Linked DNA regions of Homo sapiens. The protein of the gene in region 2 interacts with the protein of the main gene of each other region in a biochemical or structural test. Each region holds a gene or a part of one and is shown on either strand. Other genes may lie near its edges.

Region 1 (7,024 bases), on a different chromosome or scaffold from region 2:
ACATAAGATAACTGAAACACATGTTCACACAATAATTTGTACACAAACATTCATAGCCATATTATTTATAATAACCAAAAAATAGAAACAAACCAAATGTCTATCAACTGATGAATGGATAACCCAAAGGTGTTATATCCATATAACAGAATATCATTTGGTCATAAAAAGGAATGAAGTACAAATGCATACTATAACATTATACTAAGTGAAAGAAGTCAGTAACAAAAGACCACATACTGCATGATTAAATTTATATAAAATGCCCAGAAAGAGAAATACACAAACAGAAAATAGATCAGTGGTTGCCAAGGGCTAGAAGAGAGAAAAACGGGAAGTGACTTCATAGGTACTGCGTATTTTCCTTTTTTTCTTTTTTTCAGATGGAGTCTCAATCTGTCACCCAGGCTGGAGTGCAGTGGTGCAATCTTGGCTCACCGCACCCTCTGCTGCTGGGTTCAAGCGATTCTCGTGCCTCAGCCTCCTGAATAGCTGGGATTACAGGCGCCTGCCACCACACCCAGCTAATTTTTTGTATTTTTTGTAGAGATGGGGTTTCACCATGTTGGCCAGGCTGGTCTTAAACGCCTTACCTCAGGCAATCTGCCCAACTTGGCCTCCCAAAGTGCTGGGATTACAGGCATGAGCTGCTGTGCCTGACGGAGTACTTGGGTTTTTTCTTAGGACTGATGAAAATGTTCTAAAATGAGACAGCGGCAATACTTGAATAACCTTATGAATTCCACTGAATTGTACCTTTTTTAAAAAAGGAACAATGGATGCCTTCAAAATTTTGCAGGATGATTATTCTCAGCTTCGAATTTCATATACAAACTTAAATATTGGGATAATAGTATAGGGAAACTGGCCCTTGGGCTAGGGGAGGGGAGGGGAGCAGGTGCTCTATTAAAGAGAGCTAACTCCTCAACTACTATAACAGAAAGGTAATATTTACTGTTTAAAATGTAAACATTAGGCCAGGTGCAGTAGCTCATGCCTGTAATCCCAGCACTTCGGGAGGCCGAGGCAGGCGGATAACACGAGGTCGAGTTCGAGACCAGCCTGGCCAATATGGTGAAACCCTGTCTCTACTAAAATACAAAAAATTAGCTAGGCGTGGTGGCGGGTGCCTGTTATCCCAGCTACTCGGGAGGCTGAGGCAGGTGAATCACTTGAACTCAGGAGGCAGAGGTTGCAGTGGGCGAGATCACACTACCGCATTCCACCCTGGGGCAACAGAGCAAGACTCCATCTCAAAAAAAAAAAAAAAAAAAAAAAAAAGTAAAGAAAGACTAAGAATCTCTGAGTAATGAGGCCTACAAAGGGCCAGGAACTGACACATTTGAATTTTTATAGTCTCTGCATTTATTACTTTAATATAAATTTTTAAATGATTATTAAAAAAGAAAAACACTATCATACTCTTAAACTGGAGCCATGCACAGTGGCTCACACCTGTAATACTAGTGCTTTGGGAGGCCAAGGTGGGAGGATCACTTGAGGCCAGGTGTTTTGAGATCAGCCTGGGCAACAAAGTGAGACCTAGTCTCTACCCACCAAAAAATTCTTTTAATTAGCCAGGCTTGCATGCCTGCAGCCTGCAGTCCCAGTTACTCTGGAAGCCATGGGAGGAGGATTGCTTGAGCCCAGGAGTTCAAGGTCACAGTGAGTGATGATCACACCACTGCACTCCAGCCTGGGTGACAGAAAACAATTTTTAATAAAATGTAAAAGAAGAAACTGGGCCACCTGAACAATGTAATAGAAAAGGCCTAGCACTGGGGACAGAAGACTGGATATCATGTCCCATAGCATTTCTGCCCTGTGTGATCCTGAGCTAATCACTGTGTCTTAGTCTCCACACCTGTAAAAGTGAGGATAAAATTACCTACGTCATGAGAATCAAATGAAACCAGTAGATTAGAAAGCACTGTTTTAAAATTTTTTAAATTATATATAAAATACTATCTCCATAATACTGCAACTACCCAAATATTTTAGATCTTACTTATCAAAGAGATATTAATGATAAATTGTCTGTCTCCAAGATTTATTTTAACTTGAATCACCTCGACGGGGGACCTGCATAGAAAAGACTCAAGGGATAACTATAATCCACCAGCTCAATGAAGCAATGTGCTTATTATCTATTACAGACAAGATTCTTTTCCCCTGAGAGTAGATTATGTCTTTTAGAAATTATGCGTATGGTTACCTTTGCATGTCTGTTCATCAATTACAAAAAAAAAAAAAAGAAAACAAACCATTAAACACATTTACCTTCACAGTCAAATCCTCATTACCCAGCGTGACATGAACTTGAATAGGGGGGTAAACACCTCTGTTGGCATGGTGTTCCATAGTGGCTCTCATTGCATTCTGAAATACATTAGGGTTGTATTAAAAATACAGCTTTTTAGAAAAGAGAAAGTGTAATTTTCAAGTACATATGCACTATTTGAAGTTTTAAAATTTGATGGAAATATGCCAAAGAATCACAATTCTTATAACCACATTTAAAGTTTTTTTTTTAATGGAGTCAATTTGGGGGGGATTTGAAGGATATTCTGACCTAAAGACTCCAACTAAATTTTGCTTATTTTCCAAAGTCAGACTTCAAAACACTTTTAACTAGTTACATTAAAGCAGAAAACTCTGTTCAAACACTTTTATAATTTTAGTAAATGATGGGCAAAACATTTTTGAAAATGTAGTTTCAGCTATATTTTTAGAACTATTTAAAAAACTGTCATAAATTTCTTTAAAGGAAAGCAATTTTTTTCATATAGTAGTAACAGCGATGGTCGTATTTGATGGAGCAATGAATCCCTTTATCTCTAGTTTGAAATTAAGGGTATTGTCATTGTAAAGCTGCTTTGACTAATTTCTAAAGGAAATAGGGTACACAGTGCCAACATATCAGAAGCCTTAAACAATATCATGACATTCAGCATTGCAGTAGAAAATGATATAAACTAGATGTAACTAAAAAGGCATCCGAATTTGGAAGTAAGAGTGTGTGGCCCTGGCACAGCAATTGCGATTGAGTCCTCTTATGGAGGAGATTCCATCATTTCCACCAAAGGCAGGTTAAGATTAGGTTCCAGGTGAAAGCCATTATTACTGACATTATGTACAATATAATACGGAGTGCCTCAATCATAGGGCACAAGATCTTTATGCCACTGGAATTTCAAGGAAAAAATTCGTGTTAATGCTTGAAGTGCCCATCACTACTTGTTTAACTACTTGGATAAAAAGATTTTAGGGCTAGGTGCAGTGGTTTATGCCTGTAATCCCAACACTCTGGGGCAGGACTGCTTGAGGCCAGGAGTTCAAGGACAGCCTGGGTAACAGAGTGAGACCTCAACTCTACAAAAAATAAAATAAATATTTTAAAAAAGATTTTGTAAGGTATTAAATACATTTTTGCTGTCTTGGAAGAAAGAACATTCTGCTGCTGTTCTAAGATATTCGGTCAGTTTTTCTGTGTTTCAGTGCACTTTTCCTTTACATTATCAGATTGAAAGCCACCCCCTCTTTCCTCTAGTTTGCTGCTGGCTGATGAAACACAACTGAAGAGAGACTACAAGCTTCTGATAGAGGGCAATCATTTTCACCCACCAGGACCTGTGCCCCTCACTCCTCACCCATTTTCTTGTCAACCAGCAAGTATTATTGGCGGGGAAAAAAGATACTCTCAATATTAGTAGCATAATTTGTTTTCAAATTTTGTTGTAAAGAGCAAAGATTACAGCAGAAACCCTGTAAGTCAATATAAATGACCTCCCCCTCCCAAGAAAAGCCAGACCAAAAAAAGAATTCTGGTCCTTTGAGGGTAGCAAGTTGAGAATCACTCTTCTAAATATTGTTTTATAAAAACATAAAGATAACTCTATTGAGCACCTATATGTAATACGTTGCCACTGTACTGGACACTTAGTATGTTATTCCCAATAGTCATAAACAATCCTGGACAGTATTCTTGTTTTACAGAAAAGGAAACTGAGGCTCAGAGAGGTTGAGTGACTTGCCCAAGGTCACACACATATTAAGAGCCATAATTGGGATTCAAACCCAGGTCTTTCTGACTCCATAGTCTGAGCTCACCACTACATGGAGATGTCTCCCTGTGTTGATAAAAAGCTGATCTCCAGCAATGTGATATGATACTGATGTGAAATGGCACTTCTTAATAGGAGAACCTAGTGGAATATTTGGCTTTCAGAGCAGATTCCTAACCTCAGAAAAGTACTGGTAAAGGTTATGTAATACTATTTTACAAACCTTGAAAAGTTCAAACACCATGTGATAGAGATGGGATGGTACATAAACCACTTGTATTGGCTGTCCTGGTGATTTTGCTACAGAGCAGAAGAGAAAAATATGAAAGTACAGAGAGATGTGCTTAAAGCATTTTTAAGAATAAACTGTGTAGTGATGAAAAGAAAACATTAACTACGGAGGACAGTATTACCTGGGGGAGAACTGCCACACCATTTCTTCAATGTATTAGTGTTTGAACCCATACCCACAAATATTTACAACTGATGATGACAAGAGTCCTGTGGTCACTTCTCACAATCTTGCATCACAATCGAACCAACCCATGCGCCCATTTTTCTCTAGGATGGTAAAGTCTTTTTTAAGATCGCTTAACTTTCGGGTAGGAATTTTACTTTCCAAATAGAGAAGTGTTAAAATCTTTAAATTCCACAGTCCAATTCACATGCATGCATACATTCTTCTTCTTCTTTTTTTTTTTTTTTTTTTTTTTGAGACGGAGTCTTGCTCTGTTGCCCAGACTGGAGTGCAGTGGCGCGATCTTGGCTCACTGCAACCTCCACTTCCCAGGTTCAAGCAATTCTCCTGCCTCAGCCTCCCGAGTAGCTGGGATTACAGGCGCCAACCACCACGCCTGGCTGATTTTTCTTTTAGTAGAGACGGGTTTCACCATATTGGCCAGGCTTGTCTCGAACTCCTGACCTTGTGAGCCACCCGCCTCGGCCTCCCAAAGTGCTGGGATTATAGATGTGAGCCACTGCGCCCAGCCCATACATTCTTTAAGCCATTTTCAAAATGTTTCACCTGGGTGGAATATTGTTTTATTTCAGGCATTTCGATGGATATAAAGCTGAATAAAAAATATGAGCTAGCATCAATTTCTCGAGACAGTAATTAATTCTACATTTAAACACTTAATAGGAGCCCCACTGGGGGTGGTGATAGGGGTGTGTATAAAACAGACATTTAGTAGAACAAATGATTAAGACTCATGATATCTTAGAATTCTAATTCAACCAATAAATCAGACCTTCCTCTGAATAAACTCCCCCTTGGGAACAAAAATGGGACATCTGGAAATTGCTCACAGCAGTTCAGGTTTGCAAACTATCACTTACTTGTACACTGTGATTGTTATTTACCAAATGCTATGCTACCATCATGGCTCAAAAGAGTTAATATGGCTTTAGAAAATCACCAAGCAATGCTATTTTCAATTGCATAACTTCACTGCTCTCTCACTCTAAGGTCCAGAATACAGCTTAGTAAAAGCCTATTTTGTTTTATTCTTCCCACACCTTCTTAAAGTGTCATCTTAGGAAATGCTTTTTTCTGTCAAACTACCATGCTTTCAGGAAAAAGAGACTCATCAATCCCTCTTCAAGGCATCTAAACCCTTTTTGTCCAAAAGGCACTAATCAGGGTAAAAAGAAAACCATCAGAGACAAACAGATTCTCAAATAGATGAGCATCTTTCTTTCCTCTTTTATAACCCCAGTCTATGTCCTCAACAACAGAAAATTATTTACAACTCAGGAAGTAGAAAAAGGGTAAGTCTTACATTAGTGAAGTGCATGTAAAAGTCAAATGTAACTTTCTTGGTATCATTTTCTTTCTATGACTAAACAGAAAATAAAAAATAAGCAAAGAATCAAAGTTATCAATTAAAAATAAAGAAAATGTGATACAAAAAGCCAAATCTTTTCATAAAGAATCTGACTAAATTACATATGTTTATAGATATATTTTTTACATGATTACTATCCTTTAGCCTTCATATCCAACGAAGTTGATAAAAAGTCATCTTCCATTAAAACATTTAAATTCTTATCCCTTATCAAGTAATCAAAGCACTAATTATTGAGAAAAAGACAACATCAGGCTTACCATTTAGTTCTTCAAGTTCTAGTTCGGGAGAGTTAATATAATACAAATCACACAGACGCCTAGCATTTTCATAGCCATCTAGTGTGAATCAAAACAAAACAAAAAAGGATTTAATAAATATACTTCTCTTTCACGCATTAAGATGGCAATGGTATTGACAAATCAAAGTCTTGAACTCTCTACAGAAGAAAATATACTTTGATAGTTTGGTGAAAGTCTGCTTTTTTTTTTTTTTTTTTTGGTAGAGACATGGTCTCCCTATATTGCTCAGGTTTGTCTCCAACTCCCAGGCTCAAGCCATCCTCCTGCCTTGGTGCTAGGATTACAGGCATGAACCACTGCCCCCAACCAGGGAAAGCCTTTCCTTTTTTTTTTTCCTTTGAGACGGAGTCTCGATCAACCAGGCTGGAGTGCAGTGGCGCTATCTCGGCTCACTGCAGCCTCCACCTCCCTGGTTCAAGCGATTCTCCTGCCTCAGCCTCCCAAGTAGCTGGGACTACGTAGGCATGGGTCACCACGCCCAGCTAATTTTTGTATTTTCAGTACAGAGGGGGTTTCACCATGTTGGCCAGGCTGGTCTCGAACTCCTGACCTCAGGTGATCCACCCGCTTCAGCCTTCCAAAGTGCTGGGATTATAGGCATGAGCCACTGTGCCTGGCCCAGGGAAAGTCTAAGTGTGACATGACAAAGCTGAATAGCCATAAACAATGAATGACAAATATAACTACAAAAAAAATGTAAAAGTCTATATGCTAAAAAGACACCAACAATGTAAAAAAGAAAAATAACAGGCTGGAGAAAATAATTGCTATCTATGTAACAAAACTTAAGAGTTGGTTAGGAAACACTCTT
Region 2 (7,024 bases):
CATTCAGCTTCCTTTGCTTCTCCCAGAGGCTGTGGCCAGGCCAGCTGGGCTCGGGGAGCGCCAGCCTGAGAGGAGCGCGTGAGCGTCGCGGGAGCCTCGGGCACCATGAGCGACGTGGCTATTGTGAAGGAGGGTTGGCTGCACAAACGAGGTTAGTACCCGCTGCCAGGGCTGGGCCTGGGGAGGGAGAGATGGGGGTAGTAGCCCCAGGGTCTGTGAGTGCCTGTGCCCTGCTGGGTGGGAGGGGCTGCCTCCCCTGGGGCTCCTGGGCTGGCCTAGGGTGAGTGTCCTGGGCCCCATGTCTTCCCATGGCATGGAGGGCACGGCCTCGGGGAGGCCAGGAGGATGAGGCCCTGTGCAGGGCCGGCCATCTGAGTGGCTTCCTGGTGTGGGCCCTGGCAGGCGGGGGAGCTGCTGCCAGCCTCTCTCCTGGCTTTCCTGGAAGGCAGCGAGGACACTGGGCTGTTCCAGGGTCTGGCACGCTGGCGGCCCAGGGCACTGCCCAAGGGCTCCTGAGGGCAGGGCAGGGCTGCTTGGCTTGGCCTGGTGCCTGCTTCAGGCCTGAGCTTTGGGGGTGGGGGGAATCCGTACCGCCTGGGCACAGGGCATGTTTGCCTTGGAGCTGCAGAGCTGGCTGAGCCAAGTCCCCCAGCCCCTGTGTCCCCCTCCTCACTCATTTGGCCTTGCAGCCTATGGAGGAGGTGCTGCCCGAGGGGCCTGGCCAGCAGCTGGGTGGGATGGGAGCTGGGGACATAGCCCCACCCCTTCCAACCCTGTGCAGGCCCTTCTGCCTCACCCACCCTCCGTTGCTCAGCGGGGTGCGGTGGAGTCTGGGTGGCTGTTTTGCTCCTCTGTCCTGCTAGGGTGGGCTTCCTGTTCAGGTCCAGGTCCTCTGGCCAAGTCACTCTCTTCTGCCCCAGGCGGAATCGGTCCGCCCTCTCCTGACTTCTTTTTCCAGACTTGTTCCCTCCTAAGTTCTAGTGATCTCATGCCAGCAGCCCCCCGGCTTTACGTACACCCTCTAGCAGATGGGTTTCACATCTGGTAGTGGGGAGACCCCAAACACAGCTGGAGCAGACAGGGAGGTGTGGCAAAAGTAGGTGTCACAAGATGGGGCATTGTGGGATGTATAGGAGCTCACAGAAGAGCAGGCCTAAGGAGCCACAGGAGCCTGGGGGTGGGGTGAAGGAGTGACCGAGATGAGATGCTGGGGGAATCAGGGGTGTGGCTGGCTGTGTGTTTGGAGTGTTTGAGTGGGCAGCTACCAGTGATGGCACGCGGGGCCTCGAGATGAAGACAAGGAGGCTGCAGACGCCTGTGGTCCTTGGGGAGCTTCTGGCTCTGCTTCCCCCCAAGGCCTCCTGCCGCATCCTGCCTTCTCCATCCCCTCCCCGTGTGCTGTCCCCTGCTTGTTCCCCAGGAGTCCTGCCACCTGTGCCTGGAGGTCCTCTCCTCACCTCACAGCCCTCTTTGGTGTCAGGGACCCCCTGCCCCGACCCTGGCCCTGTTCCTCTCTGTGTCACATAGTCTGCTGCCTGGGGCCGCTGCTTCTTTATCCTTGGCAAATGTGTGTTTGTTGATAGACTGTTGGATCTCGGGCTGACCCAGGAGATGCCAGGGCCTTGACTGCCCAGGGGCCCAGGCCCCAGTTACTGGGGCACCCATCAGCCAGCTGGGCCTAGGCAGGAGTGCTCCCCCGAGGCCAGGTGATTTTCAGGCTGCTGCTGATGTCGTGCCTTCAGGAGGGGCCTGGCAGGGACAGGACATCAGGCCCAGTGGGGCGTCCAGAGAGCTGAGTTTGAACCCTGGTTAGCCACTCTATCGCCATGACCCTTTCCAAGAGCAAGGTCATTGAGCTCCTTGGGCCTCAGTTTCCCCATCTACACCAGGGAGCGGTGGTGGGAGAGAGACCTGGTGGAGTGGAGAATGGCTTGTGGGCGGCCCTGAGTTGGGGTCCGGCCAGCCTCAGCAGCCTCTGGGCTCTGTCATCTGGCCCCTAGCCTCAGGCCAGGAGAGAGGGTCCTGTACCTCTACCCCCGGCTCTTCCTCCTCCATCCCCAGTGTAGTGGGCGCTGAGGATGGGAGGTGGCGTGGATATGACATATGCCCTTGGCAGGCATAGCCCCTCTTGTTGCCGAGAGCAGGTGGCGTCCACCCGCATGGCCGGCCGCTCCTTGCGGAGGAAAGCCTGTCCTCCGGGGCCTGCCGCATTTCGCCACTCCCGTCCCTGGGGTCCCCTGTGTGTCTTGCAGATGTGCTGTGCCACCCTCCTGGCAGGGCCAGCCCCACCCGCAACACTGGTTAGAGGTACTAGCTGCCTTCCTGTCCCTAGCAGGGCTGTGCTGGGCTGACCCCACCCGTGCTTCACAGTGCTCAGGCCTGGCTGGGGGTGGGGAGGGAGGGAGGGACGCAGTGACTGTCCTCCAGGCCCGGCCGCAGCCCCTTGCAGACGCCCTGTTCCACTCCCCCCCAGCCTTGCTCCTGCAGGTCAGGGTGCTTGTCTCAGAGGCTGGCCCGCACCTGTCCCCTTTGCCGGGACTCCCCACGACCGTGGCCTGGGGCACTTTGGTTCTCAGCTGAATCCCCAGGTGACAGTCCCACCACGGCTACTTGGGCTGGCCACACGTGGCGTGATGGTGCCTTCAGGGGTGATGTGGTCATTGAGATGAGAGGGGACGGGTATGCCCTGTGTGTGAGGGGTGGGGTGGCAGTGTCTGCAGGCTCCTTCTCCTGCTCCTTGGGAGGTGAGCGTCATCTCTGGGAAGTGGCCCAGGCTGCTTTCTGTTGTTCTGATGTGTGTGCTCTGAGTCAGAGGAGCTTCAGGGACAGAAGGGACCGGGCATGGGGACACAGGAGTTCCGGCTGCAGGCCTGTGTGGACCTGTGGCTGGACCCAGGCGAGGCCTCTGGGTCTGCACATCTAACAGGGAGATGGTTCCTGGAGGGTGAGCTTAGGCTGTTAAGGGCAGGAGCTAGTGAGGAGGCTGGTGGGGCCTATAGGGACAGGGGGCCAGATGTCCCCTCCTGTTTCGGCTGTCTCACTGGATAAGCAGCCCAGCTCAGCTCTGGCCATTGGTGGTCTGGTGGGCTCAGTGTTGCTCAGACGTTTGCATTTTCAAAGATTTGTTCTGTTGTGTGAAGTCTCCTGATTTTTGAAGGCTGACAATTTTAAAAAATCAATCCTGGGCCAGGGCGCAGGTCTGGCTGAACTCGGCCTCCAGCCTGCAGTTTTCCTTCCTTTGATAGCTCCGTGCCAGGCTTTGGCCAGAGGCTGTGTGGCTCTTTTGAGGTACTTTCCCCAAACAGCTTGCTCACCTTGCCCGCTTGCCCCAGTACTCCTGGGGCCGTGCACCAGCCTGGCTGCAGCCTAGCCCCGTGGAGAGCTGCCCTGGTGCAGCCCCGGCCTGGAGCCTGTTTTTGTCCACTCGCGGCTGTCTTCCTGAGCGTCCCCCCGTCCACATGGCTGGACCAAGTGGGTCAGGAGAGGGCCGAGGCGGGTGGCCGGGATGCTGGGACCCAGGATGAGGTGCTCTGGGCTCTCGAGAAAGGGCTGGGCCTAGGCCAGGAGTGGGTGCCGGCCGCAGGGGCACCACCTGGACTCCCTCAGGCTGGTCGCTGTCCGAGAGGGGCCGGGGAAGAGCTGCAGGCCTGGCTGCCTTCGGCAGGCTGTGACCCAGCAGGCCAAGGCCGAGTGGGCGGGGGTCGAGGGAAGCTGCCTGGGGCGCGTGGGTTACGCGGCAGACGCTCCTGAGTGTGTGGGCAGCGTGTCCAAGCCACGGATCTGGGTGCCTGGCCGGGCCCGGGTGACACGGGACCGTGTGTCCATGCGGCTCACGGAGGGTCCAGTCTCCGGACATCTGAGTCCTTGCCATGCCCTACCCCGGGCCCATGCCTGGCATAGACCCCCCAGTCCAGGCCTCAGGGCAGCCCCCTCACCACTCCTGCTGAGTTAGCCCCAGGCGTCCCGGTGGGGAGTATGGAGGCTGGTCTCTGACCCCAAGCAGGTGCCTAGGCTGGGCCTCCTTCCCACCCCCTCTCCCCGCCTTGAAGTCCTGGCACTGGCTGTCCCTGCGGGGGGGCACTGAGGCAGGGAGAGAGTGGTTCCTACCCCAGTGTGTTACTTCGCTTTGGTGAGCGACATAGAACCTCACTGCATCCCCAGCTGCTGCTCAGCCATCCAGCTGGTCCTGGGGTCCCTGCGTGAGGTGGGGGACCTCAGAGGGTACAGGCCACTCCCCTTCATCCTGGAGGAGGCCTTGGCTTTGCTGAGTAAACACCCTTGAGAAGAGGTCTGTGGGGGACTCTGAGCCCACTCCAGAGAGCAGCTGCTGCGGAGGGCCCCGCAGGGCTAATTGTTTGTGTGCAGATGGAGGCTGCTCATTACCCCGCCAGGATGAGGGGCCCAGCAGGACCCTGAGGGAGGGAGCCCGCAGACTCTCCCCTCAGCCTGTGGGAACCTTTGGGCTCCAGGCCAGGGCTGCCTGTGCCTCCTGGGCCTCAGTTTTTCCCAGGCTGTCAGGTGAGGGTCAACCCCAGGCTGCGTCTAGGTGGCTTCAGTGTGAGACCCGCGGGCCCTGGGCTGGTTAGTGCCAAGCTCTGCCTCCCCTGGGGGAGCGTTGAGGGTCTGGAACGGCCCCCGTGGGCAGGCCAGGGACAGAGATGGGGAGGCAAGTGTGCTGGCTCCTGGTGGGAGGGCTGGGCAGAGAGTGGGGGTCCCAACAGCCCTGGGCCTACCCGGGAGAGGGGCAGGAGGCACAGGCTGGTGGAGGTCATGGCATGGCTGTGGTGGAGGCCGCCAGCATCAGGGAGGTTCCTGTTTTGGGAGCTTGTTGAGTTCTCACTTCAAAAACAACAAAAGAGGAAGCCGAGGTGGCCTTGAGTGGGGGTGAGGGGTCACTGCTGGCCCCAGCCCTGGACCTTAGCCCCCACGCCTGGTGGCTCCTGAGTGGACAGCTCTTCTTCCTGTGTGTTTCTTGGTCACTGGCCCTCTCTGGGCAGGGATGCCCTGTGGGGGGCTGGACTCCGGGAAGGGAAACTGAGGCCCAGGAGAGTGGACAGAATGTGGGTGGAATGATTCCTGTGCTGGGGCCTAGACCCCCGTACACCTTCCACTCTCAGGAGAAGCCTGGCCGGGTTGCATCAGGCCGGGTTCCTAGAAGTCCTGCACGAGGCTGAGCGGAGGGAACTGGCGCGGCCCCCGCTGGCGTCCCCTCTGCCTGGGCACACCCGGCCCGGCTTGGGGCCAGCACCCTGCCCTCGGGCCCTCCCATAGCTGAGACTGGTGGCTGTGGCTGTGGCTCTGGGCCTGCTCCCCAGGCCACCCTGGGTGGGCAGCTGCCTGCTGCTTCTGTCTGCTTGGACCATTGTGCCTAGTCCCATGGCCTCAGGAGAAGGTTCCCCCAGCCCAGCGCTGGGGCCCCGGGCAGGTTGGCAGAGGGCCCTGGGGCTCCAGGCCAGGATGGGGCTGTTAGGCGAACCCTAGGCCCCTTACTTCCTCATCTCCAACGGGAGTTCCCTTCCCTGCCATGCCGCCTTTAGGTGTGTTTTCCTTGAACCTTAAGGAATGATAGGTTTGGATTTCAGAAACGTTGGAATTGAGGGGGTTGGGAGTTCATGGGTGACTCTGCTGCCAATGTTGCGGGCTTTGGGGTGGGATCCTTGGGGCGCTGTGTTTGGGCTCACACACCCCCCAGGCGGGCCCGGTGACTGCAGACCCCACCCATACCCTGTAACCTGGCGGGCCCACCTGCCCAGGCCCTCAGCTGGTTGTCCAGCTCAGGGGTGGAGACACCCCCTGGGCAGGCCTGGCGGGGAGGTGGCTGCTCCCTGGGCCTGGAGAATGCAGAGAGGCCCTTCGGCTGGCCAGGGTCTGGCTGGCCTCCCCACAGACTGGGGCCAGGGGCACAGCAGCCAGGTGTAGGGCGCGGAGACGCTGAGCTGCACAAGCTTGGTGAGGTGTGGGGTGAGGCCACGGGGGTCAGGGCCACAATGTCCCAGCAGGCCGGGGGATCAGAAGGAGCACCCTCCACAGCTGGCCGTGCTCTGGGGGCCCTCCTGCCCCAGGCGTGGCTCCAAGTTGGGGCAGAAACAAGATGGTGGGGAGATGGAAGGCCCCTCTGTGGCGGGTGCTTCCCATGGTCGGTGTGGAGGACGAGGTCCCTACTGCCTGGTTCCAGTTCCCCCAGCAATGCAGGGCACTTTTCCTGGGGTGTCAGGGATTGAGAGGCCAGCACTGGAGCCCTTCAACCGCCAGGGGCCCTGCCCAAGAGAGACGGGAGGAGGGAGGGGCTGTGGGCATGGCTGCGTGCCCCCGGCCGAGCCCCGGAAGGAGCCTGTGCCCGTGCCCACTTCCTTTCCCGAGGGCAGTGTCTACACGTGGGACACTGTGGCCAGCCCTCCCTCGCAGCAGGCACTGTGTGCTGTCCCCATGCCCAGCTTCCTCCCACGCAGGGAGCGAGGGTGAGGGCCCTGGGAACCCACTGGGTGGAGGGCACTTGGCAAAGCCTGCTGCAAGTTATGGGGAGAGTGGGCGGGGGCAGAGTAGGAGGCGCCAGGGAGGGGCTGCAGCCTCATCTGCAGGGGTCCTGAGTAGGCAGGGTGGGCCATGACATGGGTGGGGCTTGTTTGGGGCAGACCAAAAATGAGGTGGGGGACAGGGACAGGGACAGGGTCTTGGGATGTGCTGGGCTCTGCGATGGATGGGTGTGTGGCAGGTGGGGTGCCTTTGCCGGCCCGAGGGGTGGGTGACGGGCAGTGCCTGTGGGGGAGGACATCCAGGCCCAGGTGGTCTGTCAGGGGCAGCACCAGGGAGGCCCAGTACCCCACCCAGTAGAGCCCCAGGAGAATGGAAAGCTGAGACCCAGGTGCTTCCCTGGAGTGGCAGGAAGAGAGGCCCCAGCGCCTCCGGCTGTGCCTCAGCGAGGTGGACGGGGTCATGGTGGTGCCGCCTGCCCGCACCATGTTCCTCCCGGGGTGTGTGTGTCGGGCTGAGGCCTGCTCCATGGTGGAGCGGAAGGAGGTGAAGA
Region 3 (7,024 bases), on a different chromosome or scaffold from region 2:
GAAGCAAAGGCAAATGTTTGAGCAATTAGTTTTCAGGGATTTTTTTCATCAGCCTTTTCTAGTTAATTAAGTATAAGTATAAGAGACCTATCTGCTATTTACTGAGTGCCCTGGAGAAATTGCAAAAAGTGTCTCTGGAAAATGCTGACTATTGCCTCTGGGGCATCCTGATATGGCTGCAGTGGGAGGCCGGCAGAAGTAACAACCCTCCCATCGTGCCTCAGTGTATTTGTGTGTGTATGCGCGTGCATGCAAATGCATACACACGTACATGTATATAATTATTAAACAGAATTTTCTTGAGGAAAAACATTTTATTAATATGACCTACACTGCATTGTAGTTTTCTATCAATTTCACTGGATTAAAAGATTGAGGGAATAAGATTGGCAGACTACCCCCTAGTGGCTAACTTGAAGAAAGTTGTGCACAAATTGTAAAGAACTACTGCATTAAGGTAACAGTAATTGTTTATTTCCATTATATTTATTAAATATACTTATTAAATCTATGTCCCAGGCACTGGATCAGGTGCTTGGAATAAAAATCCAGTAAACAGAAAAAAAAATTAATCCAGTCTTTCAGTCTTAGCAATGGCTTTGCCTTCTCCTTCAAAGGAAAATTGAAATGATGAGGGAGTAGTTGTCTGTACGTACGATGAATGGCCACATTTTCAAATTTACTTGTATCTGCATAGTTCCTTTCTTTCTTCCTTTTTTTTTTTTTTTTTTTTGAGACAGAGTTTCACTTTTGTTGCCTAGGCTGGAGTGCAATGCACGATCTGGGCTCACTGCAACCTTTGCCTCCTGGGTTCAAGCGATTCTCCTGCCTCAGCCTCCCAAGTAGCTGGGATTACAGGCATGCATCACCACACCTGGCTAATTTTGTATTTTTAGTAGAGATGAGGCTTGACCACGTTGGTGAGGCTGGTCTTGAACTCCTGACCTCAGGTGATCCACCCGCCTCGGCCTCCCACAGTGCTGGGATTACAGACAGACATGAGCCACCGCGCCCAGCCTGCATGGTTCCTTTCTTGTTTCCTTTTCTTAGAGTAGATGAAGTGCCACTTCTATCTGAGCTAATCCTGCTACTTATACTTTGAATCATATCTTCTCCTCCCTACTCAAATAATTCTTATCCTGTAACACATCTTCAACTTCTTTCCCTCTCTGTACTACCTACTTTTTTTCAGGGATAAACTTGGTGGTGGTTTATGCAGTCTTCCTTTCTCCCACCTTCTTCTCAGTCGGCTCCAGTGGAAACCTACTTTGTTATTCACCAAAGCTATTCTGACAAAGGCACCAGCGATACCCAGGTCACTAAACTCAGAGGATGATTTTTTACTCCTCATTTTAATTAATCTCTTCACTGCTTGGTCATAGTTGACCACTCTTTTTTAAAACACCTTCCTCTTATCTTGGCTGACACTATAAATGCCTGTTATTTCTCCTTTTCTGGCTACTCTATATTTCCTTTGCTAGACTGACCCTTTTATCCAGTCCTTAAAGGTTGAAGCTCCTTTATAGTCATAGTGGCTGTGTGGTTTCTCCCCTTTGGCAACCTTGTCCATTCTACTGGCTTCAGTTATCATTTGCATGGTGGTCATCAAGTTAAATTTCCATCTCAGAGTTGTGTTCTGAACTTCAGACTTACATATCCAACTGTTAACTGGGCATCTCTATTTGAATGTTTCCCAGTCAACACAAACTCACCACTTCCAAAACTAAACTCTTCTTTGTTCATCTCTTCACTCCACATCTGCTCAGTAAACAGTGCCACTAAGCACCTACTTGCTCAGATGAGAAACTTGGGCATCATCTTTGACTCCCCGTCACCCACTATCCCACATCTAATCTGTCACCAAAACCCATTAGTGGTATCATCTAAATATCTTGTTATACGCTTCTTCATCCCCACTGCCATGACTTTTAGGATTATTTTAGTAGCCATCTGTTGAGCACTTACTTTGTACCAGGCACTATGCTTAGACCATTGATCTTTTAATGTAGTAATTTAGCCCTATAATAAGGGAAGCAACTTACCCAAAGTCATCTAGCTTTGTCCTAAAGCCTGGGCTTTTTAAAAAAATTAAACATTTCATTTTGAGGTAATTCTACATGCACATCTAGTTGTAAGAAATAGTAAACAAAGATTTATGTAGCCATTATCCAGTTTTCCTTAATGGTAACATCTTGCAAAATTATAGTACAGTATCACAACAGTATATTGACAATGATACAGTCAAGATACAGAGCATTTCCATCATGATAGGATTTTTTATGTTGCCCTTTTATAATCGTATTCACTACCATCCCACCCCTACCACATCCTTAATCTGTGACAACTACTAATCTGTTCTCTGATATTTCATGTGTGTTATTTAAATGGATTCATGCAGTACTTAAGATTTTGAACTTTTTTTTATTCAGCATAATTCTCTGGAGATTCATCCTCATTTCATGCATCAATAGTTATTGTTTTTTATTGCTAAGTAGTATTTCATGGTATGGATGTACCACACAGTCTGTTTATTTAACCATTCACCCGTTAGTTCTCATTTACATTTCCCTTATGGCTAATGATGTTGAACATCTTTTCATATGATTATTTGCCATCTGTATATCCTCTTTGGTCAAATGTCTTCAAGAATTTGAGTATTTTATATATAGGTTTTTTTTTTTTGAGATGGAGTTTTGCTCTTGTTACCCAGGCTGGAGTGCAATGGCATGATCTCGGCTCCCCAGGTTCAAGTGATTCTCTTTGTTGTTGTTGTTGTTGTTGTTGTTGTTTTTAGACAGATTCTCACTCTGTCACCCAGGCTGGAGTGCGGTGGCACAGTCTTGGCTCACTGCAACCTCTGCCTCCCAGGTTCAAGCGATTCTCCTGCCTCAGCCTCCTGAGTAGCTGGGACTACAGGTGTGCGCCACCATGCCCAGCTCATTTTTGTATTTTTAGTAGAGACAGGGTTTCACCATGTTGGCCAGGATGGTCTCAATCTCTTGACCTCGTGATCCGCCCACCTTGGCCTCCCAAAGTGCTGGGATTACAGGCGTGAGCCACTGCGCCGGCTTTCCTGGTTTTTTTTTTTCTACACATTTTACAGGTTTATGTTTTTCCTTTAAGTCCGTGATCCACTGTGAGTTAATTTTCATGTAAGATGTGAGACTTAGATTGAGGTTCTTTTGTTGTTGTCATTGTTGTTGACAAAGCCATCCTACTTCCATTGAATTGCTTTTCCGTCTTTGTCAAAAATCAGTTGGACGTATTTGTGTGGGTCTGTTTCTGTTGTCTCTGTTTTGGTCCATTTTTCCATGTGTCTGTCCCTCTGCAAATACCATAGAATCTTGCCAACTCTAGCTATATTGTAAGTCTTGAAATCTGGTAGCCTGATTCCTCTACTTTATTCTTATTTTTCAAAGTGTTTTAGCTATTCTATTATCTTTACCTTTCAATACAAATTTTAGAATAATCTTGTTTATGCAAAAAAAAGAAAGTCTTGCTGAGATTTTAATAGGAAGTGCATTAATCCTGTGTACCAATTTGGGAAGAAATTACAGCTTTACTATATTAAATCTTCCAGTCCATGAATTTATTTTACATTTATTTATATATGTCTTTCTTCCTTCGTTTATTTTCTTCTCCTTCCACCATCCCCCCCCCCAACCACCCCCACCAGAATCTTGCTGTGTCACACAGGCTGGCGACAGTGGCACAATCATGGCTCACTGCAGCCTCAAATTCCTGGGCTCAGGTGATCCTACTGTCTCAGCCTCCCAAGTAATTGGGACGACAGCTGCGTACTGCTGTGCCTGGCTAATTTTTTTTTTTATTATTTGTAGAGACAGGGTCTCCCTGCGTTGCCCAGGCTGGTCTCACACTCCGGAGCTTAAGCAGTCCTCCCACCTTGGCTTCCCAGAGTGCTGCGATTATAGGTGTGAACCACCATGTCTAGCCTTCTGGAAGAGATGGTGTAGAACTGGTATAATTCTTTAAACCTTTGGTAGAATTCTCCAGATTAAACCATCTGGATCTGGAAATGTCTTTGTTAGGAATTTTTTACATTTTTAATCCAATTTCTTTAATAGATACGGGGTTCTTCAAATTATCTACTTCATATTGGCTGAATTATAGAAGTTTACATTTTTCAACAAATTGGTCCATTTTGTCTAAGTTGTTACATACATGTGAGTGGAGTTACAGTATCCTGTATTATGCTTTCAGTGTCTGCAGGGTCTGTAGTGGGTCCACTGCTTTATTTTTTTAACCCTTATTCTTGCATACTGACATTGCTTCATTATTATTTTTTGTTTGTTTTTTGAGACAGCATGTCACTCTGTCACCTGGGGTGGAGTGCAATGGCACGATCTCAGCTCACTACAACCTCCACCTCCCAGGTTCCAGCAGTTCTCCTGCCTCAGCCTCCCGAGCAGCTGGGATTGCAGGCATGTGCCACAATGCCCAGCTGATTTTTGTATTTTTAGTAGAGACAGGGTTTCACCATATTGGCCAGGCTGGTCTCAAACTCCTGACCTTAAGTGATCTGCCTGCTTTGGCCTCCCAAAGTGCTGCAATTACAGGCATGAGCCGCTGCACCTGGCCTCTGATTTTTTTATATAGTAGTTTATTCATTTGAGACTTTTCCTCTTATTTAATGTATTCATTTACTGCTATGAATTTCCCTCTCAGCACTGCTTTAGCTGTGTCCCACTAATTTTGATAAATTGCATTTTCAATTTTTATTTGCTCAGTATATATATATTTTTTTTACTTTCCTTGAGACTTTCCTCTTTGACCATGGATTATTTACAAGTACATTGTTTAGTTTCCAAATGTTTGGAGATTTTCCCATTATTTTTCTGTTTCTGTCTTTTAGTTGGAATTCATTGTGGGAGTAGAGTAAGTTCTATTTGATTTCAATTATTTTTAACTTGTCAAGGTTTATTTTATTGCTGAAAATGTGGTCTATCTTGCTTTAGGTTCCATGGGTACTTTGAAAAGAATGTTTATTCTGCTATTATTGGGTAAAGTATTCCATAAATGTCAATTATATCTTTTTGATTGATAGTGATATATATAATTCTTTTATATCCTTGCTGATTTTTCTATCTAGTTCTTCTGTCGATTGTTGAGAGACAGGGGTTGAAGTTTCCAACTATAATTGTGAATATTTCTGTTTCTCATTTCACTTATATCTGTTTTTGTTTCACATATTTTATTTTTTTTATTATTTTTTTGGAGATGGAGTTCCGCTGTTGTTGCCCAGGCTGGAGGTGCAATAGCATGATCTCAGCTCTCCGCAACCTCCACCTCCTGGGTGCAAGCAATTCTCCTGCCTCAGCCTCCCAAGTAGTTGGGATTACAGGCATGCGCCACCACACCCGGCTAATTTTGTATTTTTAATAGAGACAGGGTTTCTCCATGTTGGCCAGACTGGTCTCGAACTCCTGACCTCAGGTCATCCGCCTGCCTCGGCCTCCCAAAGTGCTGGGATTACAGACATGAGCCACCGCACCCAGCCCTGTTGTTCAATATATACACATTTAGAATTGCAACATCTTCTTGGTGGCATGACCCTTTTATCTTTATATAATACCTGCTGAGTCTCTGGTAATTTCTTTTGCTCTGAGGTCTACTTGTTATCTGATATATTATACAAGTATCTGAGGGCTACTTGATATATTATAGCCTATATCTGATGATATAGTTATTCTTGCTTTCCTTTTATTGATATTCACATGATACATCTTTTCCATCAATTTACTTTCAACCTACCCATATCATTGTATTTGAAGTGATATCTTATAGGTGGCATATTGTTGGGGTGTATTAATCCGTTCTCGCACTGCTGTAAAGAACTACCTGAGACTGGGTAATTTATCAAGAAAAGAGGTTTAATTGGCCCACAGTTCCACAAGCTGTACAGGAAGCATGGCTGGGGAGGCCTCAGGAAACTTACAGTCATGGCGGAAGGTGAGGGAGAAGCAGGCACATCTTACATGGCTGGAGCAGGAGGAAGAGAGTGAGGGGAGAGGTACTACACACTTCTAAATAACCAGATCTCACAATAACTCACTCACTATCATGAGAACAGCACCAAAGGGGAACTCCACCTCCATAATCCAATCATTTCCCATCAGGCCCCACCTCCAATATTTGGGGATGACAATTTGACCTCAGATTTGGGCAGGGACACATACCCAAACCATATCATGGGGCATGTTTTTAATCCACTGTGCTGATTTATGTCTTAATTGGTATATTTAAATTTACACTTAATATAATTTCTAATATGCTAGAGCTTAGTTCTGCCACTTTATTTTTTGTTTGTGTTCTGTTTTTGTTTTCTTCTTGCCTTCCTGTGAGTTTCTTGAATATTTTTTAGAATTCCATTTTGATTTATCTATATAGTGTTTTTGAGTGTATCTCTCTATACAGCTTTTTTAGTGGTTGCTCTAGGTATTATACTGTACATACAACAGTCAGTTGGTGTCGTCTTATAATCTAAATGAAGTCTGTATCATCATTTTACAAGTTTAAGTAAAGTATAGTAACCTTACCTCCCTTTATGTCCTTTTGCCATCCTCCATATATAATTGTCTTAAATATTTTTTTTATATCAGACAGTGCTATAATTTTTGCTTCAGTCATTAAACCTAATTTAGAAAACTCAGAAGGAAAGACTATTTAATTACATTTTTGTTTACTATGTGCTTTCTTCTTTGCTGATGTTTTCAGGTTCCTCTTTTTTTCATTTCCTTTCTGTTTAGAGAACTTCCTTTAGCCATTCTTTAGGGTAGATTGGCCAGTGATAAATTGTCTTTATTTTCCTTCACCTGAGAAGGTCTCATTTTCCCCTTCATTCTGATATTTTCACTGGATATTGAATTATTTAGTTGACACTTCTTTTCTTTGAGCACCTGTAAAATACTGCATCCTTTCCTTCTGGCCTGCATGGTTTCTAATGAAAAATCCATGGTCTTTCCAATTGCTTTCCCTCAGGAGGTAAAATGCCCTCTTTTTCTTT
Region 4 (7,024 bases), on a different chromosome or scaffold from region 2:
CAGGTTCTGGCTGGGAGCTCATCCCTCCTCCCCTGCAGCAAAGTCACACCCATGCATGCACACACACACACACACAAACGCACACGCACACAATGCACGCGCAGACACTTGGGGACCAAGCTATAGCATCTGCCTGAGGGGCAAACATACAAACAGGCACATGCAAGTGCCAGAGACAAGGTTCCCCTTTGGCCCTCAAGGCCTGCTAGGAAAATATAACATTCCTTGCCCACCTACCCGCAGTCACCCCTCTTTCTCCCACAGCCAAAAAAAGGGGGCCTGATTCCTATCGCCCACCAAATCCAGCAGCCTCAGGAAGATAAGATCTCCACCTGAGCTTCTGGTGTCGTTCCCACCGACTCCCCAGGAGCCTCAGAGCGCCTCTCCAGCACAGGGATTCACTTGGGTTCAGATAAATAGCAGCAGCAGCTAGGCCCCACCCCTCCAGGCCCACCCCCTCTCCCCCAGGCCCCCCCACAGGACACGTGGTCTGCACCTGCCACCAGCAGAGCTAGAAGAGATGAGGAAAGGGTCAATTTGCAAGAGGACCAAGGTGGGTATGACCAAACCCAGGTATCCGACAGCCCTCTGCCTGCCATGCAGGCAGGGAAGAGAGGGCCGATGGGAGGCAGGGGTGCCTGAAGCAGCAGCCAGCCTGGCCTGGCCAGGAGGTGGGGAAGGGGTGGCCGCCACAGCAGCTGAAAGAGGCAGGCACAAGGACGGCTCCATTCCTGGTCCTCCCTCTTGCCAAAGAGTCTGACCCTCCAGGACGGAAGAGAAAGATTCTGCAGCCAGCATGAAGTTCCCATGACGTCAGAAACCACAGAGGGACGCCTGTGTGCCTGAGCATATCCCCCTGACACCGCAAGTCCAGCACATTTGTATTTATTAACCAAGCAGTTCATAATTCCCCTCGACACAGCCCCCCAGCTCATAGGCAGCATTTACAGGGGAACAGGGCTCTGTACCCCAGACCCATGCTGCAGAAGGAAGACTCTGCAAAGAGGCTGAATCTGGCAAAGAAACAGAGACTTGGAAGGTTCTAGAAACATGCGGGTGTCAGGGGAGACTGGGTTATTTTTTGAAGGAGAAAAGATAAGCCAGAAACGCTCTCCAAAAAGGGGCATCAGTTCACCACAAGAGCCCTCAGGAGCCCCCACTCTTGAGCCATGGGCTGCCACCTGGTGACCCACTCCTGGCAGGCCTCTTACTTCTCTAGTAAGGGCAACTGTGACAAAACTTTTAAGATTTAAGTCAAAAAAAACCTGTCATTTTATCCCCCTCATTTCCCTCCCCTGGCCCAGGTTCCCAAAAAGCCCATCCAAACACCCATGTTCAGGAGCAAGGACAACAGGCTCCTCCCTCCCCTCCTCTTCTCTCCCAGGCTCCACCACAGCCAGGCAAGAGCCCGAGGCACCCAACAGAGACAAAGCCCACTCTGGTCCCTGGGGGCCTTGTCTTGGACCACTCGCTTCACTCAGAATCACCCCAGGCTCTCTCCTCCAGGAGGGCAGCCAGGCACCCCGAGCCTACAGGGGCCTCACCTCTGGGGAGCTTTGTTTCAACTGCCCTGCTCAACCACACTCCACCCCCAGCCCCTCCCCCACCTCCCCACCCTACCCCACCCCTTCCCCAGTCTGCAGGCTCCAGCCCTGTGCACACTTCCAGGCCCAGGAAAGCTCAGGGAGCATGGAGCTGTGTAACCAGTTTCACTCTCTGGACAGGGCCCTCTGAGCAAGCAACCAGGAGGCACCCTGTCGGCTTTGTCGGCTTTGTCTGCCAGGGGCCTGCCCGGCAAGGGCTCCGAGGCAAAGGCAGGCAGATGGGCACTGGAAGACAAGAGCCCCTGCCTCCTGGCCAGCCTCGCCTACCAGGGCCAAAGAACAGATCCTCAAAAGGCCTCTGGCAGAGCCAGGGCTAGGCCCATGTCCTGGAGCTCCAGTGGCCCTGGGCCCCTACACACAGAAAGGCCAGAGAGGTAGTTTCTTTGGAGGGGCTGCAGGCTGCCCCCAGGCCTTCAGTACCCCAGGGTCTCCCTAAGTCCTTCAGGGAGGTTACAGTCCTTTGCCTGTAACTCTGGCAAAGGAAAACAGACGAGTGGGAGAAAAAGGAATCGGGGCTGGAAGACAAAGAAAAAATTAGCTCATTCTAGCCACAAAGGGAGAAGAGAAAGAACCAGAATGAGCGAGCGAGCTGCAGCCCGCAGTGACCCCAGGGGAATCGTGTGAGTCAGAGCAGCCATATTGAGCAGGAAATTACTCACAGACGCTGCGTTCCTGCCTCTCCACTCCCCAGAGAATCGGCCTTTTGTAAATGGCTCCTCTGTCAGTAACTGGGGGGATGGGCGGGGGTGGGGAGGCTCTGCACAGCGCCTTCCTGTCAGCTCCTTCCCTTCCAGCTGAAATCTGATCCCTCCCTTCCCAAAACTCCAAATTTAGAAGCCAGATTGAAACTGAAATTCTTTTCCTGCCTGCCCTGGGCTCTTAAAGGCGCCAGGGCTGCATTTACAGAGGCTGTAGAGGCCCTGCAAGGTGGGGTCCCTCACCTAGGATGCCCACGGGTATCAGGGCAGTCTTGGCATGAGACCCTGAAAGGGCTGCCTGATTCCACTCCCAAGTTCTCGGTGTTTTAGTTAATCTCCCAGTTAAAAGAGCACCATGGTGAATCCAGGGTCTCCAGAGGAAACACTGCCTCCTTCCCAAGCAAGGCGTACAGAACTCCATGCAAGCCTCCAGGTCCCCAGTGAGCTAGGCCAGGCCACTCACCAACTAGGGACTGCAAAATGCTGCTCACTGCTCCGAGGTGGAAGAGGGTGGGCGCTCTGGAGAACCAACACAACGTGTGCTGCAACCAGCGGCCACGTGGCAAGATGGGCCCTTGCTGCAGCCACCCCGGCTCCTGGGCACACTCCTCCTAGGGTCTACTGTTGAACACCATGCCCAAGAGCCTAGACCCAAAGTGAAAACCCGGACCTGTGGAGAAGGTGCGGAACAGCCAACAACTCTAGGCACGCCCTCCCCTCCCTGTTCCTTCTGCTGCCTCAAATAAATGTCACCAAACCCTCTCCAAGTTCAGTGTGCCTCTCCTGCCACCTAGTGGCTACTTTGAGATTTCCTCTACTGGAGGAACTGGGTCCCAAACTTTGGAAAAGCTTTTGGGGTGTTTATACCAACAAAATCAACCAACCAACTAAAGACAAAATTTTACCATGGAATCAATTCCCAAAATCCTGGAGGCCAGGCCTGGCATGCCTCCTAGTTAGAATACCGACAGGGACCCAGAGGCCTGGCCAGCCGCCGGGGGAGCCCAAACAGCTCAGCCTTTCAGCCACACCCAAGAACTCAGTGTGGCATCTGCACCCTTCTTCCCACCCTGCTCCTCCAGCTTATCCTGAGGTCCCCCAGGGCTCCGCAGACCCCCACATTCCACTCCACAGAGAGCAGCGCGTGACTGGCTTTCAAGGCAGTGAGCCAGGCTGCCCCCAAGTCCTCCCGACCTTGGGCCTGCCACACTGCTGAGGGCAGCAGATCTCCGGGAATGAAGTGGTGGCCGCCCAGCCGTCAGTCCCGGCTCCATTTGCTGACTTGGAAAAAATGTGTCATTCCCCTCTGGCCTCTGGAGTTTGGCAGAAGCCTGAGCCGAATGTTGACCAGGAAGAGCCTGGAGCCAAGGCTGCTGGTTATAACCCAGCTTTCTCCACCTCGTCGGGGGCTCAGAATACACAGCCCGGACGGAGAGCAGCCCCCGTGGCCAGCATCCACAGGCCTGCTAGGAACCTCACTGAGGCAGCAGACATCCGTGCTGGTGTCGGGAAAGGGACTGAGGAGGGATAGAACTCTCAAACCCTCTCCAGATAGCTGAGCGAGGGCGCCCTTTGGAAACTGGGGCATGGGGATGGCAGAGAGGATGAGAAGTCCTAACACCTCCCTCAAGAGAGGTCCAGAGAGCAGAGGGTCCCCAGCTTTCCTGTGCAGTCGCCTGGCACGTGTGTTTAGATGCAGGTTCCTGGCTCTTGTCCCCTAAGATTCTGATGCAATAAGCTGGGATGGAGGGCCCAGGAATGTGCGTTTTAACAAACACACTAGGAGATCTCGCACAAGTGGTCCAGGGCCCACTGCAAGGAATCCTGCCTTGGTGAGACAATAACTTCCAGTTCCAGAACCCAGCCGTGGGGCTGGCTATCCAGTGACTGCCACCACAGGCCAGGCCTGCGCACTCCCACTCCAGCACTTTGCTCGGGCCCACGTCCTCAGGCACTGACAGAGACGTGTCCCTTCGACAGAAAAGCTGTCTGCACCAGAAGTTCGCTCCATCTCCTCTGGTGGTTTCATTTTACACATCCACAGCACATGGTTCTACAGACCCTTGTGGGGCCCCACCGAAAGATGCTGACCCTCCCCCACAAACCTCCGCCCGCCCCGACCCTTTCAGACCTGCTGCAGCAGTCACCAAGGCCAGTTAGTGACCAAGTCTTAGACCCTCATCTCAAGACTCCTGTGGTGTTCAGGAGAAACTGAAGGAGAACTGGGCGGAGGACCTGACAGTCAGCAGCGGCTCTTTCGGAAGAGGCCCAGTGGTGCTTCCTTTTCAATAACCCGCTCCGGCCGGCCCTGCCATTTTGGGCAGCAGCTCTGGCTCTTCTGATCCACTGTAAGGCCACCAGCCTTGGTTCATCTGAGCCTGGAGGCAGCCATGGGCTTCTCTCTCACCCCTCCTCCTCACCTCGGTAATAAACAGGATACACTCCAGGAACATGTAGTCCTTGTGGTTCTCATTCACGGCCTTCTCATCCACAAAGTGTCTGGGCTCCAGGTATGGGTGGTCTGGGAAAAGGAATGGGCCCCAGCATTCAGAACCAGGCCCCACGACTACCTGGGCAACCCGGCCCAGCAGTCACACCCCCCCAGGGGCCTCAGTCCTGCCCGTGGTGCCCTCAACACCTCACCTTGAAGGAGCAATAAGTAACTCTGGGTTTGTGTATTCTAATGTGCTAAGCTCTAGCTGCATGGCGTTGGACGCATGACTTCAGCCTGCCAAGGTTCAGTTTCCTCACCTGGACACTGGGGACAAGAAGAGCACCTCCTCCTAGGGGCCATGACAACAATTACCACACCTACAGCACTCAGTATGGTGCCTGGTGCAGGTGCCAGTCAGCAGAGCCGGCTTCATGCTGGCAGACCCTTCGCAGTGTCACTGAGAAGATTCGGGGAGGCAATGCACCCGAGGCCACAACTAATGGTCATTTATGAATATCAGTCTGTAGGCAGTTCATTCTTCATCAAAATAGAGATGATCACCTACGCCCATCCTGAAAACTAGCTTCAAGAGTTGGGGAGTCACCAGAGCAGGCCTCTCTGAGCCCCACAGGAAGCAGGCCCACCACCCAGCACTTGGCGGCTGCTCCCTAACGGGCCCCTTTGCACACAGCTCGATAATAACAGTGGATGACACTGGTCACCAAATCAAAAGGGTCCCTCATTTTCAACATAAAACCCCACAGCTGCTGCCAGGAGCTGGGGCGCATTTCACACCAGTCCATTATGCACCAGGCGTGCGCCCTTGCTCCAGCCCATGTCACTTCCCATTATCTTGGTGGCGCTTGGCCTCCGCCTCCTCCAGCCCACCACACGGGCTCTCACAGCAGAAGGTCGACAGTAAACAGCCTCCCTCAATAGCTGGTCTAATGCCCTGCTTTCCAAGCTGTCACTGTCTGCCCTGGGCAGGAAGAAGGGAAGGAGGGAGCGCAGGAGGGGCAGGGGAGGGCCACAGAACGCAGCCTTGGTTGGGGGTGGAGGGATAGGCACCTCCCGCTCTAGTACCTATCAGCTGCGAACTGCCCCAGATGAAGGGCAGAAACTGGAAGTCATCCAGACCCCACACTCCCTGGCTGCCGGCTGGCTCCATCCTGTATGTTTTCTGGAGTTTCCGCATAACCTCAAGGTACCTGCACAGGAGGACAGGGAAAGGGAAGGTAGCAAAAAGTAAAAAGACAGTCTCACCCTTTCGGCCACTGGGAGCACAAGGAGACCCCAAAATAACCACTGAAGAGTGTTAACTGGTCTCAATTTCAATAATGTAGCTTTATTTCCCCCAACAAACACTCAGCCATCTTTTGGCTCAGGAAAGGCATAAAAATCACTGATTAAGGGCCCGGGCACGGTGGCTCACGCCTGTAATCCCAGCACTTTGGGAGGCCGAGGCAGGCGGATCACAAGGTCAGGAGATCGAGACCATCCTGGCCAACACGGTGAAACCCCGTCTCTACTAAAAATCCAAAAAATCAGCCAGGTGTGGTGGTGGGCGCCTGTGGTCCCAGCTACTCTGGAGGCTGAGGCAGGAGAATGGCATGAACCCAGGAGGCAGAGCTTGCAGTGAGCCGAGATCTCTCCACTGCACTCCAGCCTGGGCGACAGAGCAAGACCCTGTCTCAAAAAAAATAAACAAATAAATAAATAAAAAATCACTGATTAGGAAGGTGGGTTTTGGTGCCATCAACTCCTGACAACTTGTAAAACCCTGGGCAGGGCCTCAGCCTCTCCAGCCTCAGTTGGCCTGTCTGAAAGCTAACACAAGTCCCAGCAGGTTATCTCCTAGGTTCTTCTGGTTCCAACCTTCTATATTATCAGAGGCTGCATATCAACCACCTGTGAAGCATCGAGCACTGCTCCTGGGCTCCGTCACAGGCCTGCTGCAGCAGCACTGCTAGACTGGGGCCCGCAATGGGGATTTTAAGAGCTCTGGGTAACTGATCCACATCAGTGCTGCCCAGCGACTGGCTTGGGTGGTGTGGGGCAGCAGGTCAGAGTCTGACTACCTGGGTTCAGCTGGCGTGAACCCAGTGAAGACACCGGATATCTCTGTGCCTCAGTTTCCTCATATGTAAAATGGAAATAACAGTTGCTATTTCATAGGGTTGTTGTTAGAATTAATGAGTTATACATAAAGTGCTTAGAATTCTTCCTCCATATGGTCAACACTGTGTCAATACTGGCAGACATTATGTGACAATTCTTTTTTTTTTTAA

The links.
Region 1: of the proteins of AKT1 (region 2) and PDK1, one has a biochemical effect on the other in vitro, tested with the Homo sapiens proteins (3 studies listed by BioGRID and IntAct, with this or other methods).
Region 3: of the proteins of AKT1 (region 2) and GAB2, one has a biochemical effect on the other in vitro, tested with the Homo sapiens proteins (2 studies listed by BioGRID).
Region 4: of the proteins of AKT1 (region 2) and PTPA, one has a biochemical effect on the other in vitro, tested with the Homo sapiens proteins (2 studies listed by BioGRID).

The regions. Positions count from the first base shown.
Region 1 is NC_000002.12:172,566,081-172,573,104, reverse strand, and holds part of PDK1 ([Pyruvate dehydrogenase (acetyl-transferring)] kinase isozyme 1, mitochondrial isoform 2 precursor), read right to left. Parts: intron 6,250-7,024; coding exon 6,172-6,249; intron 5,906-6,171; coding exon of another isoform or gene 5,889-5,905; exon of another isoform or gene 5,083-5,888; intron 4,365-5,082; coding exon 4,288-4,364; intron 2,380-4,287; coding exon 2,281-2,379; intron 1-2,280. UniProt on the Homo sapiens protein: Kinase that plays a key role in regulation of glucose and fatty acid metabolism and homeostasis via phosphorylation of the pyruvate dehydrogenase subunits PDHA1 and PDHA2.
Region 2 is NC_000014.9:104,785,725-104,792,748, reverse strand, and holds part of AKT1 (RAC-alpha serine/threonine-protein kinase), read left to right. Parts: intron 1-26; 5' UTR 27-105; coding exon 106-151; intron 152-7,024. UniProt on the Homo sapiens protein: AKT1 is one of 3 closely related serine/threonine-protein kinases (AKT1, AKT2 and AKT3) called the AKT kinase, and which regulate many processes including metabolism, proliferation, cell survival, growth and angiogenesis.
Region 3 is NC_000011.10:78,407,797-78,414,820, reverse strand, and holds part of GAB2 (GRB2-associated-binding protein 2), read left to right. Parts: intron 1-7,024. UniProt on the Homo sapiens protein: Adapter protein which acts downstream of several membrane receptors including cytokine, antigen, hormone, cell matrix and growth factor receptors to regulate multiple signaling pathways.
Region 4 is NC_000009.12:129,135,391-129,142,414, reverse strand, and holds part of PTPA (serine/threonine-protein phosphatase 2A activator), read right to left. Parts: intron 5,945-7,024; coding exon 5,820-5,944; intron 4,824-5,819; coding exon 4,723-4,823; intron 1-4,722. UniProt on the Homo sapiens protein: PPIases accelerate the folding of proteins. It catalyzes the cis-trans isomerization of proline imidic peptide bonds in oligopeptides. Acts as a regulatory subunit for serine/threonine-protein phosphatase 2A (PP2A).